Linked DNA regions of Homo sapiens: region 1 is reported to be linked to region 2. Evidence: microRNA targets listed by miRTarBase, many of them from high-throughput screens and not tested one by one. Region 2 holds a microRNA gene; the other region holds the end of a gene's coding sequence.

Region 1 (5,328 bases), not on the chromosome of region 2:
TTTTTTTGTAGCAACTGGGTCTCGCACCAGCCTTGCCAACATTGCAAAACCCCGTCTCTACTAAAAATACAAAAAATTAGCCAGGCGTGGTGGCTCCTGGCTGTAGTTCCAGCTACTTGGGAGGCTGAGACATGAGAATCACTTGAACCTGGGAGGCACAGGTTGCAGTGAGCCAAGATGGCGCCACTGCACTCCAGCCCGGGTGACAGAGTGAAACTCCATCTCAAAAAAAAAAAAAAAAGGCGGTCTCAAACACCTGGCCTCAAGCAATCCTCCCACCTTAGCCTCCCAAAGTGCTGGGATTATGGGCATGAGTCATCGCACCCAGCTGGAAAATGCTTTCTAACCCACAATTCTTTATGGAGAGTATGTGAAGATAGATTTAAAACATTTTTAGACAAGCAAGGTCTCAATGAATTTACCTTCCATGAACCCTTTCTCAAAAAACTACTGGACAGCCAGGTGCAGTGGCTCAGGCCTATAACCCCAGCACTTTGGGAGGCCGAGGCAGGCGGATCATCTGAGGTCAGGAGTTTGAGACCAGCCTGGGCAACATGGTGAAGCCCCGTCTCCACTAAAAACACAAATAATCTGGGCGTGGTGGCAGACGCCTGTAATCCCAGCTGCTTGGGAGGGTGAGGCAGAAGAATCGTTTGAACCCAGTTGGTGGAGGCTGCAGTGAGCCAAAATCATGCCACTGCACTCCAGCCTGGGCAACAGAGTGAGGCCTCAACTCAAAAAAAAAAAAAAAAAAAAAAAAAAAAACTGCTGGAGGATGTGCTCAACCAAAATGAGGATGTAAACTGAAAAAATCAGGAAACATAGAAAACAGGAAACAGGATGTCCAGTACAAAAAAAAAAGGTAAAGGGAACACACAGGATGGTAATGAAAGATCCCAAGATGACAACTATGTTCCTCGAGGGCAACTCGTTCAGATTAAAGCAGGCAAAGGCTCCAGAAGATGGGAAGAAGTAACTGATAGACAACCCAATATATCCAAACATCTTTTGTGATTGAATTATTAAAGAAAAAATAAGACAAATTTAGTATAGGGAAAATAAAAAGTTGGGCAGAAAGAGAAAACAACTATTGTGAACTATGCAGCCAACCAAAATTATAATTGAACTAAGTTGGAAATATGGCGACATGGTTTGAACGTTTGTCCCCTCCAGATCTCATGTTGAAATGCAATCTCCAGTGTTGGAGGGGGTGCCTGGTGGGAGGTGGTGGTCATGGGGAGGAATGGCTTGGTGCTCTTCATGAAGTGATACATGAGTTCTTGCACTGAGTTCACAGCAGATATGGTTGCTTAAAGGAGTGTGGCACCTCCCCCATCTCTTGCTCCCTCTCATCATGGGATATGCTGGCTTCCCCTTTGCCTTCTGTCATGATTGGAAGTTTCCTGAGGCCTCACCAGAAGCAGATAGCAACACCATGCTTCCTGTACAGTCTGCAGAACGGTAAGCCAAAATAAACCACTTTTCTTTGTAAATTACCCAGCTGCAGGTATTTTTTTATAGCAACCCCAAAACAGCTTAATACACTTGGGGAGATGAGAAGGGTGAACACGAATGGTGGGGATAGGAAAAGGAAGAAATGAAATCCTTATATGCCAGAGAAGGGCAATAAATAACGCCTAAAACTGAAAAATCAATAAAGTAATATAAGCATGTTATTTAGCAATTTGGAGGTAAATACTGAAAAAAAGCTAAAACTTTTGAACACCTTCATTTCTGTAAGTTGGGGTACTAAGACAAGTTTTATCCAATACAAACTTGATTTTGACTGTAGAAACTAGTCTTTGTCCCACAAACAAAGTTTATCAATATCTCTTCAAAGATGTTCTTCACCTGATCATCACATTGGTTATGATCCATAAGGCAGAAGGAAACTTTTCAGCATAAGAAACTGAGTCATTAACCAGCAATTTCCAAATACTAGAAATTGCAGTATTTGTATATCATGACATCCCTTTTTTCCCAGAAGGGCTGGATGAAATATACTTATTCTATGGCAATTCAAAATTCAAGCTTTGAAGTTTCTCAGCCCTCAGTGTTCCCATTTCAACTACAGAGATTAATACAAAATCAATAGAGAACCTACAGCAATAATAAGAGAGGCTTAAGGTTGAGTTTAGAAGTAGGAGGAAGCCACCTGGCGACTGTCAACCTCACTGTGCAACAACCTCCCCTGGGGAGCTTTTAAAAAATACCCTGGTCCCATTTCTGAAATTCAGATTCAACTGGCCTGGGGTAAGGCCCAAACACCATTATTTTTAAGGTCCCCAAATGATCCCACTGTGCTGCCAAGATTGCTTTTCACAGAGTTGAACTACTCTACGTATTAAGGACAACATTTTTAGGAACCATTACGAGGCAGCAAGGTGGCAGGGGCTGAACGGCAAGGTGGGAAACTGGGTCGCTTGAAATGGCTGAAGGACATTTAAGAGGGCAAGTTGATATTTAAGCAATTGAATTAGCCTCCTGTTTGTCTCCAAAACTGAGCAGGTCACACAAGTGCCAAAGGTGGAGGGGTTTTTGGTATGAAAAGCAGAGAGTTTCAGGGAGGAGAAAGTCACGTGATGGAAGTCCTGAGAGGGCAGGGGTGTTTGTGAGCTAGCCATGGGAATGCGGGATGGCATCTGTGACACCTGAATTAGGGTAGTAACTACACAGCGAAGGGAGTGAAGTCCACACGCGTGAGGTTTGCTGCTCACCGTGCTCAGTCTCTCGGCCTGAGGTCACCACCTTAACTCCCTTATCCATATCCTGGCTCTCCTTTAATATTTTAAAACTTTGACCTGTTTACACCATTAAAATTAAGGCTAACTGAGCCTAACCTCTTCACTTTAATTCTGATAAAATGAATTGCTTAGTTGAAGTCATCTACAGCTCATTCACACTCTTCCAAGTATTTTTTATTTAAAGATGCAGGCTGAATAGATTATAAATGCATCATTTCTTCCTTTGTTTTTTTTTTTTTTTTTGAGACAGTCTCGCTCTATAGCCCAGGCTGGAGTGCAATGGTGCAATCTTGGCTCACTGCAACCTCTGCCTCCGGGGTTCAAGCAATTCTCTTGCCTCAGCCTCCTGGGTAGCTGGGATTACAGGCACCTGCCATCATGCCTGGCTAACTTTTTTATTTTTGTAGAGATGGGGTTTTACCATGTTGCTCAGGCTGGTCTTGAACTCCTGACTTCAGATGATCTGCCCGCCTTGGTCTCCCAAAGTGGAGGGATTACAGGTGTGAGCCACTGCACCCAGCCTAAATGCCTCATTTTGACCTGTCATTTCACTTAATTGCAAAACAGGATAAAATCTAATGTGTCCAACAGTAACACAAAAAAGATTACAAAAAAGATTTAACCATGACCCACATATCTAACGTTAAAAAATCATTCGTTCTCATTACCATATAACGTTAGCAATATCTACTAAATTTAGTAGTACTTAATTTCACATATATACATCATAAAAAAGATAAAATAATTGCAAAAGCATGAACGAATGTGACAAAGAGATGTTTAGCTTTAAGAAAATTAAGCCAGCAAAGAGTTTTTACGGGTGTTCATTTATTGACTGCTGGGAATACAGCCTATTGAGAATACATGACATGCATTTGGTGGAGAAATCAACTAAATCTGAAATGAAGCCATTCAGTAAGCCTGCTGTGAGTTAATAAGGTAGCACAGATTAGATCTAAGGACATGGTGGGGGCAACTCAAACAGCCACTCACAATTGTTATTAAGATTCCAGCTACAATTTCTTTTGGAACTTATTTATTCTTAATTACTTAGGAATTACCAGGAAAGAGGGAAAATCAATCTGCCTCTTTACCTTAAATTAATGCTAAGAGGGATACTGTGAATCACTAAAAAACTCTCCCCAAAATTATGTTCTTACTTCAAATCCTTTAAGGCAATTCTATTTTTACAAATTCTTCAATTTCTATGCCTCAGGATTATTAGCAGCTAAGCAGAGTTAGAAAAGATTAATAACTGATACAAAAGGCTATTCATTTGATTCTAGTGTTTACTGCTGAATTATACTGTGTTCTAATATGAGCAGATTTTTATACGATATTGCCAATTTCTTCCCCCAAGATTTTTGTTTTAATTCATTGATGCAATAAAATAAATCAAAGAATTCAAGGTACACTTAAAAGGACAGAAAGATAAGTTACTGGAGTATCTTACACCATAATCTAAAATTGTTGAATTATACATACATATAACTTGAATAAAATGAATAACTTGGATAAAGTGAGTAAAATGCTGAAATGTATCCCTAACTACAGTTTCATGCCAGGTATTTTCCCCGAACTTTGTTTCCCGAACTTAAGAAAAAAATGGATATTTTTTCTTAAGATGACAACCTTAATATCACTTGATGTTCAGGTGATTTGAGATAGTTTTTATGGTAGTAGAAAGAAAAACAGAAAGAGAAACCCCAATGAAACAAAAAAAGGAAGATTCTGGCTTTTTGTTTTCTTTTTTAAAGAGCCTGTTCCTTTCATAATCTTTCCTCCACGCTTCTGGAGAAAATGGTTATGGCGTGCAACGCTGGACAAATCGAGGGTATAAGCACACGTCTCGGATGTGATACCTATTCAGAATCCACGTTAAGAATCGTTCCAAGCCCAAGCCATATCCTCCATGGGGACATGTACCGTATTTTCTCTGTTTAAAAAAAGAAAGAAAGAAAGAGGAGTAAATACTTAAGTTAAAACTTTCATCTAAGACAGTTAAAATTTTCCACCATGAAAGGAGTTAGCTCACTGTGGTTAAGAATTCAACTATGGCCAGATTCAGTGGCTCGTGCCTGTAATCCCAGCACTTAATCTCTATGCCTTCATGAACCATGCATAAAGAAATAATTTGGTATGAAAAAATCAACCAGGGAATAAGTACTACCCTGGAAAGAAGAGATTTTTAAAAACTTTTAAAATAAGTCAATGTCTATTTATAAGAGGAAAATGAAGAAGGGTACTAGATACTGGTAGGATCAATTTTTTAAAACTCAGTTGCAATCAACAAGCCGGCCGTTAAACAGGTTTTCAAATGAAATTAACATATAACTTGGCCAAAACAAAGCTGGCAATATTCACACACCACATTATAACCTGCAAACTGAATATAGCTCATTCAAATACCAAAGTACTACCCTGAATTCTCCCCTTTTAAAAATTTCAATATATACAGAACGATTACAGTGGAAAAAAATGTTGAGTACTTAAAAAATTGGTTTTACCTGATCCGTATACCAGTAATAGGGAGTGGGGTCAATCCCTTCCCTTTTATAACCTGCCAGTATTTCTTCACTATCAA
Region 2 (5,384 bases):
CCCCGAGGCACACAATGCATTTATTATAATGTCTTGGCCCTAAGAAGGGCCTGGGAACAGCTTGGAGTGGTCTATAATTAAGTACATTTAATAATAAATGCACATACTTCTTAGGTATTGCAAGAAGTGAAAATAAGCTCTTCGTCTTCTCAGTCTCAATTCCCTTTCCCCATCATCCTTCCCCTTCACAAATCAGAAAAGCCAGGAGTACTGTGCTTTTTTAAAAATAGCAATTGCAGAGGATGTCTGGCTGGTCGAGAAAGGTAAATTAAATTACTTGAGAACATTCTTTCCATGTCAAAAAAAATGGCTTCTGCCTCCTCAGGTAGTTACGCATGGGGAGGATTTGCTAAAGGTTGGCTGTTCCTTTAATCTCCCTTGGATTCCACTTCCAAAGGCTTTCAGGGGCAGTGACCCGCTAGCTAAGGGGCATCCCTTGGGGTTAAGCTGCCACTTGGAAGGGCACTTCCTCAGATTGCTGCTGTGCCTAGCAAGGAAGCAGCAGTTAGAAGTGTTCCCCCGACAGTGTCCCATGTCCTCGGTCCCCACACCTCTGAGTGCTCGAATATGGGCAGATAGATAGACTTTCTGAGGAAAGGGAGAGGAAGAGAGCCCTGTGAATGTGGACAGGGTACAAGAAGAGAAGTCACACTGGAAGGAAGAGAAAAAGGCAGCAGGAGTGTGACATGTACATTTGTGAGATGCAGCAAGGGGCGTGGGACTGCGAGGGACGCAAAGGCATTAAGGGGCCTGGAGGCTGGAGGCCCAGCTTTGCCCCTGCCTGGCTGTGAGTGTGGCCTATTTTCTTGAACTTCTCTAAGCCTCAGTTTCTTTACTTGTAAAATGAGGATGTTAATGGTACCATGAATAGTTAGTGAAAGGTCTAGTAACAGGAATCTTGGGAAAGTGACTTAAATTCTCTGAGCCTCACTTTCTTTATCATCTGCAAAATAAGGTAAAAAATACCCCTGTTACATGCATTGTTGTAAGGATGAATGAAATAATGTATGCAATCACTTAGCATATACCTGGTTCACAGTAAATCATCAGTAAATGCTAGCTGCTGTTGTGGCGACCGTTGGAATGCAATTACATTTTTAAAGATACATGTTGGATTGAAATTGTTTGCATCATTGAATGGTTCAATACATGGAGCAGGTGTCTCACTAGAGGAACAAGAAAGCCATGCAAACTCACCAGGTAGTACCACGTTGGAAATCAGATTGCTTTTATTTATTTATTTGATAGTTAATGATAGGGAGAGGGGTGATAGAACAAATGGGTATTATCTTTTCTTCTTTCCTATAATTAATTAAAATGAAATTATGGACCTGTACAATTTCAATAGATATGGATGGATAGGATAATATTATTAATAATAGTTTTTCCAACTTAAGACCAGTTTTTTCAACTCACTGGTGCCCTAACGTTTCTGATTTTGCTATCAATCGTGAAGAGGAGTTTTTAAATTATATGGTTAAAGAGAGAATGACTTTTGCTGAAGCATCTTATTTTAAACAAAGTAATATTGAGCTTATTGATAAAATAAAGGTCAGCCCAAGAGTGTGTGGGAATAAGGTACATTTTGAAAGAAAAGAGAATGAGGCTTTAAAAAAAGTTGTTTTCTTTCTTTTTGTTACAGCTAAAAATTTCCAATCACCATTCACTTCAAATATACCACCTTGATTTTACTTTTTTTACTTTGCTTTAGGTAATTTTTATATGAATATTCTCAATAAATAATTTTCGTGTAAGCATTTATTATTTTGAGCATTACAGTTTGGACCCCAAAATGGAGTACTGTGAATTTTTTGAGAGATGCTAGAAGAACAGAAGAAACAGTAAACTTTTAAGGCAAGACATCTTTCTCCTCCCACTCTAGCAGCAAGGAGAAGAGGACATTTGCTCTTTAAGAGCCTTTTAAAAGTCACGTGGAAAGGCAAGCACTCCAAGGATTTTTTGATTCCTTTTGGCTTTGGCCAAGAAAATGAAATTATTGAGAACAGCCAGACTTTCATAAGATATTGCTGTTGGAGGGACTTTTTGGTGGGTTAAATATTATAAAATCATTGTTTTCTGGTCAATACAGAGCAGGGAGAAAATAAAAATAATTGTTGGATAGGAGCATTTTGGTGGGTTTTGCACAGACTTGCATCTTGTGTCAGAATGTGACATCAAAGGCTCAGTTTGATGGGGTCACTTTTCTAACGTGACCAGATGATGTGTTAAGGCAAAAGCAAAGTATTTTCTCCCCCTCAGGTTTTTGGAAATAGACCAAACACATAGTTCTCAAAACCACCTTCCTTTAACCCCAACCTTTGATAAAGTGCAGGTCAACTAGCTTGCCCTAATCACTTCTAAACTCATCAGTGGAGTATCTTTCCATGTTTAAGTCTCCTTCTGGCTGCTTCTCTGAATTCTCATTACGGAGCAAGTGTAGGAAGACCCAGGAATGCCGGAATCATCCAGTCACTGCATGGGTTCACTTCATCCATATCTTCTTTTTTTCAGAATACTCTTTATTCCTGTCTTATTTCAAATCCTGGTGTCATCAGGGTGATGAAGGGCACTTCTTAGACACTCGACAACATGGTGGAGGTGAAGATCTGTTGTAAAATCTGAGGGATATCCTTGGTATCCATGGCAACGAAAGACCGACCAGCTGGTAAAGTTCTCTGAAGCCTGCCAGGATGGAAAGGGAAAGGAAGTTACCACTGTAAATGGGGCTCCCTTCCACCTCCTGCCCTGGCAAACCACAGCCCCCTAATGGTTTCTTAGGAAAGGAAGTTTTTACTTTCTAATACCTTGCTCTCTGCCTACCATTGAATTAGTCGTCATTAAACAATGAAAGGCTTGGAAGAGCAACAAGGAAAGACACAGCAAAAGCAGGGAACTGAAAGAAAGGTCTTTTCAGTGAGAAAGTCAGTGAATTTGAAAAGAAAAAATTTTCTTCCTTTCTTTACTGCCATTTCTTGGTATTTCATATTCTTTTGGTATAACAGAGCCATAGGGATTCATATGGAATCAGCTCACCTCCCGGGTCTAGCAAATATGTTGACCTTACACTGTATTTCGAAGTGCTTTTCCTTCCTTAGAAAACAGGCCTCTAAAAACGCTGCGCAGCCAAACCCTGAGTGGTTCTTTCTCTCTTTCTTTGCCTCTCTCTCTTTTTTTTGGTCCACATCACACAATGTGAAATGCGATCTGGATTGTCCAATTACTGCTTCAATGACACTGAGGTTATACAGGCTTATGAAATTTTTTCCAACTCATTTTTAAGTGAATTTTAAAAAACTTATAATGGGTTTTGATTTGAATTATCCTTAAAAATAACATGTCATTGAAGTTACGATACTTTTTTAAATACTAATTTATAATTTGGAACAAAAGGCCATTTTGAAGGCAACAAAACTGTAAGACACAGTTCTCTTCAAAAGAACGCCTCCTTTCACTGTGCCAGTGAAGTCTGGCTTTGGAATGACATTTAATAAAATTCAACCATCCTGTGTAGTATCGTATATTTGGCATGCCTGGTAAGCCAGCTAATTCTGCAACATATCTTTTGCCAGTGGATGTTGGACCATTTCCCTAGGAAACCACAAGGGTATTATTGTGCTTTCTTAAGTATTCAAACAGGATCTGTTCACTAGAAAGACAAAATAGCCATTTCATCTCAACTAGTATTTGTTGAGCTTGTTGTCTGCCTAATACTGGGCTGATGCTGAGGAAAACCTGGGTGGAAAAGGCATAGTTTGTGTTTGAGGATGTGGAGGTTCTAAAAGATGCAAAGTGCTAACTTGTAAAAACTAAGAAGAATGAAAAGTCATGTCATAAAATGACTGTAACTACATGATATTAAGTCTGTTCTCAACCTCGCTCTGCAACCTTACAGCAAGGCAAAGGGAATAGAAAGAGAAAAAGCTGCTAGCATTTTGGATATTAAAACATTTCCAGTCACAGAGTATGAAAAGTAAAAGGGGTGGAATAACAAAAACGTAGGCCCTTTGTGCTTTAGGCAGGGATTTTTTTTTTTTTTTTTAAGATTACTTTCACTGGTGTTTTATGTTTCTTACAGGTATTTTAAACACAGAAAAACCATGAGCTCTTTCTGTTTGTAATTCAAAAAGATAAATGTTATTGTGTTCAAGTTATGAAAGTGTTTCCAGATCTCTCCTTTCAGATCATACCCACTGGTATTTATTGTCTGATCATAAGATTCTCTATTGAATATTTAGTATATTCAGTGTAGTATCTAACTATATGTATATTATCTTATGTTGTCGCCAAGTGTTTCACCTGCCTTGTCTCTCCAGCAATAAGAAGGGATACATGTGAGTGTGTCTATATATATATACAGGCATGCATATATGTAGGTGATGTCTCTATGGGGATATAATACATATGTGTGTATATATATGTCTAATATGTACAGACATTCATACACACACACTATCTCCTATGCTAGGAAAATAGTAGATGTTCACGATTTTTAATATGATTTGAACACAAAATGATTAGCCTGAGCTTAGGAGCTTGACATAAAGTGCCAAATGTATAAAATACTACCCGGTTTATTAGTGACAAATCAATTTGTCAATGATTTATTAGTGGCTTAAATATAAACTAAAAAATAATTAATTTAAAATTATTATTGTTCATCTAAACAAAAGCTAGAACATATCCCCTCAACTAGATTATAAACCCCTTGAGGCTAGTAACTTTAGTTTCTGTTTTTCCTCCATCTGCCTCACTGTCCCTCATGGTGCTAAGCCTATAAAACAGCATGTGTTAGCTACTCAGTATCTCTGTACCTGCCCTTTTCTGTATGCTCAGATGACACTTACCTGGTTGCTTGATCACCTAAAGAGCCAATAAAAATGGCAAAAGCATTTACTTGAGGGTCTCTTGTGAGGATTTGAGCAAACTTAGCAGGATGTATTCCATATCGTGACAGATTTGCATCACTCAAGACTATGACAAAGTACTCATCAGCTTCTTCTTTGACAATTTCCTTGATGGCATGTTCTGTCCCTTCTAACGTGTGGTCCCCACTCATGCAGAACTGAGAGTGGGCATGCATTGTCTGGAGGTAAAAGAAGTTGCACAAAAGCCATGGCTGAGAAACTTCTTTTTTAACAAATACGATTATTTTTCTATTGACCATGAGCATGCATACATACCAATTATTACCCATGAGTAGTACATTCTAAGTTAGTTCTATTTAATTTGCATATTTGAGTGACAACAGTATACAGTGATATTTGTTATCTGGCATAGAATTTCATTAGATATAGGATATCATTCCAAAATTATCACAGTGGGCACTTAGTTTTAAGTGGAAGCTTGCACTTCCACTTAAAGTGAGAAAATATAAGAAAATATAA

What was found. Region 2 holds the annotated microRNA hsa-miR-5006-5p (UUGCCAGGGCAGGAGGUGGAA, at 2,732-2,752, opposite strand). A microRNA usually pairs through its seed, bases 2 to 8, with sites in the 3' UTR of a target mRNA and lowers its output. Matches are read on the target gene's strand: a 7mer-m8 pairs with bases 2 to 8, a 7mer-A1 pairs with bases 2 to 7 and ends in A, and an 8mer does both.
Region 1: miRTarBase lists NARS1 as a target of hsa-miR-5006-5p. Seed matches in the 3' UTR shown: 7mer-m8 at 4,304-4,310.

Annotation. Positions count from the first base shown.
Region 1 is chr18:57,597,104-57,602,431 of GRCh38, forward strand. It overlaps NARS1 (asparaginyl-tRNA synthetase 1), which reads right to left. Exons shown (of 14, transcript NM_004539.4): 13 at 5,252-5,328; 14 at 3,553-4,680. The coding sequence ends at 4,549. Among named protein-coding and RNA genes, the nearest start is that of FECH, 13 kb to the left of the region's middle.
Region 2 is chr13:41,565,624-41,571,007 of GRCh38, forward strand. It overlaps MIR5006 (microRNA 5006), which reads right to left and starts at 2,772; the gene lies at 2,663-2,772. VWA8 (von Willebrand factor A domain containing 8) reads right to left here. Exons shown (of 45, transcript NM_015058.2): 44 at 4,845-5,083; 45 at 1,212-2,682. The coding sequence ends at 2,574.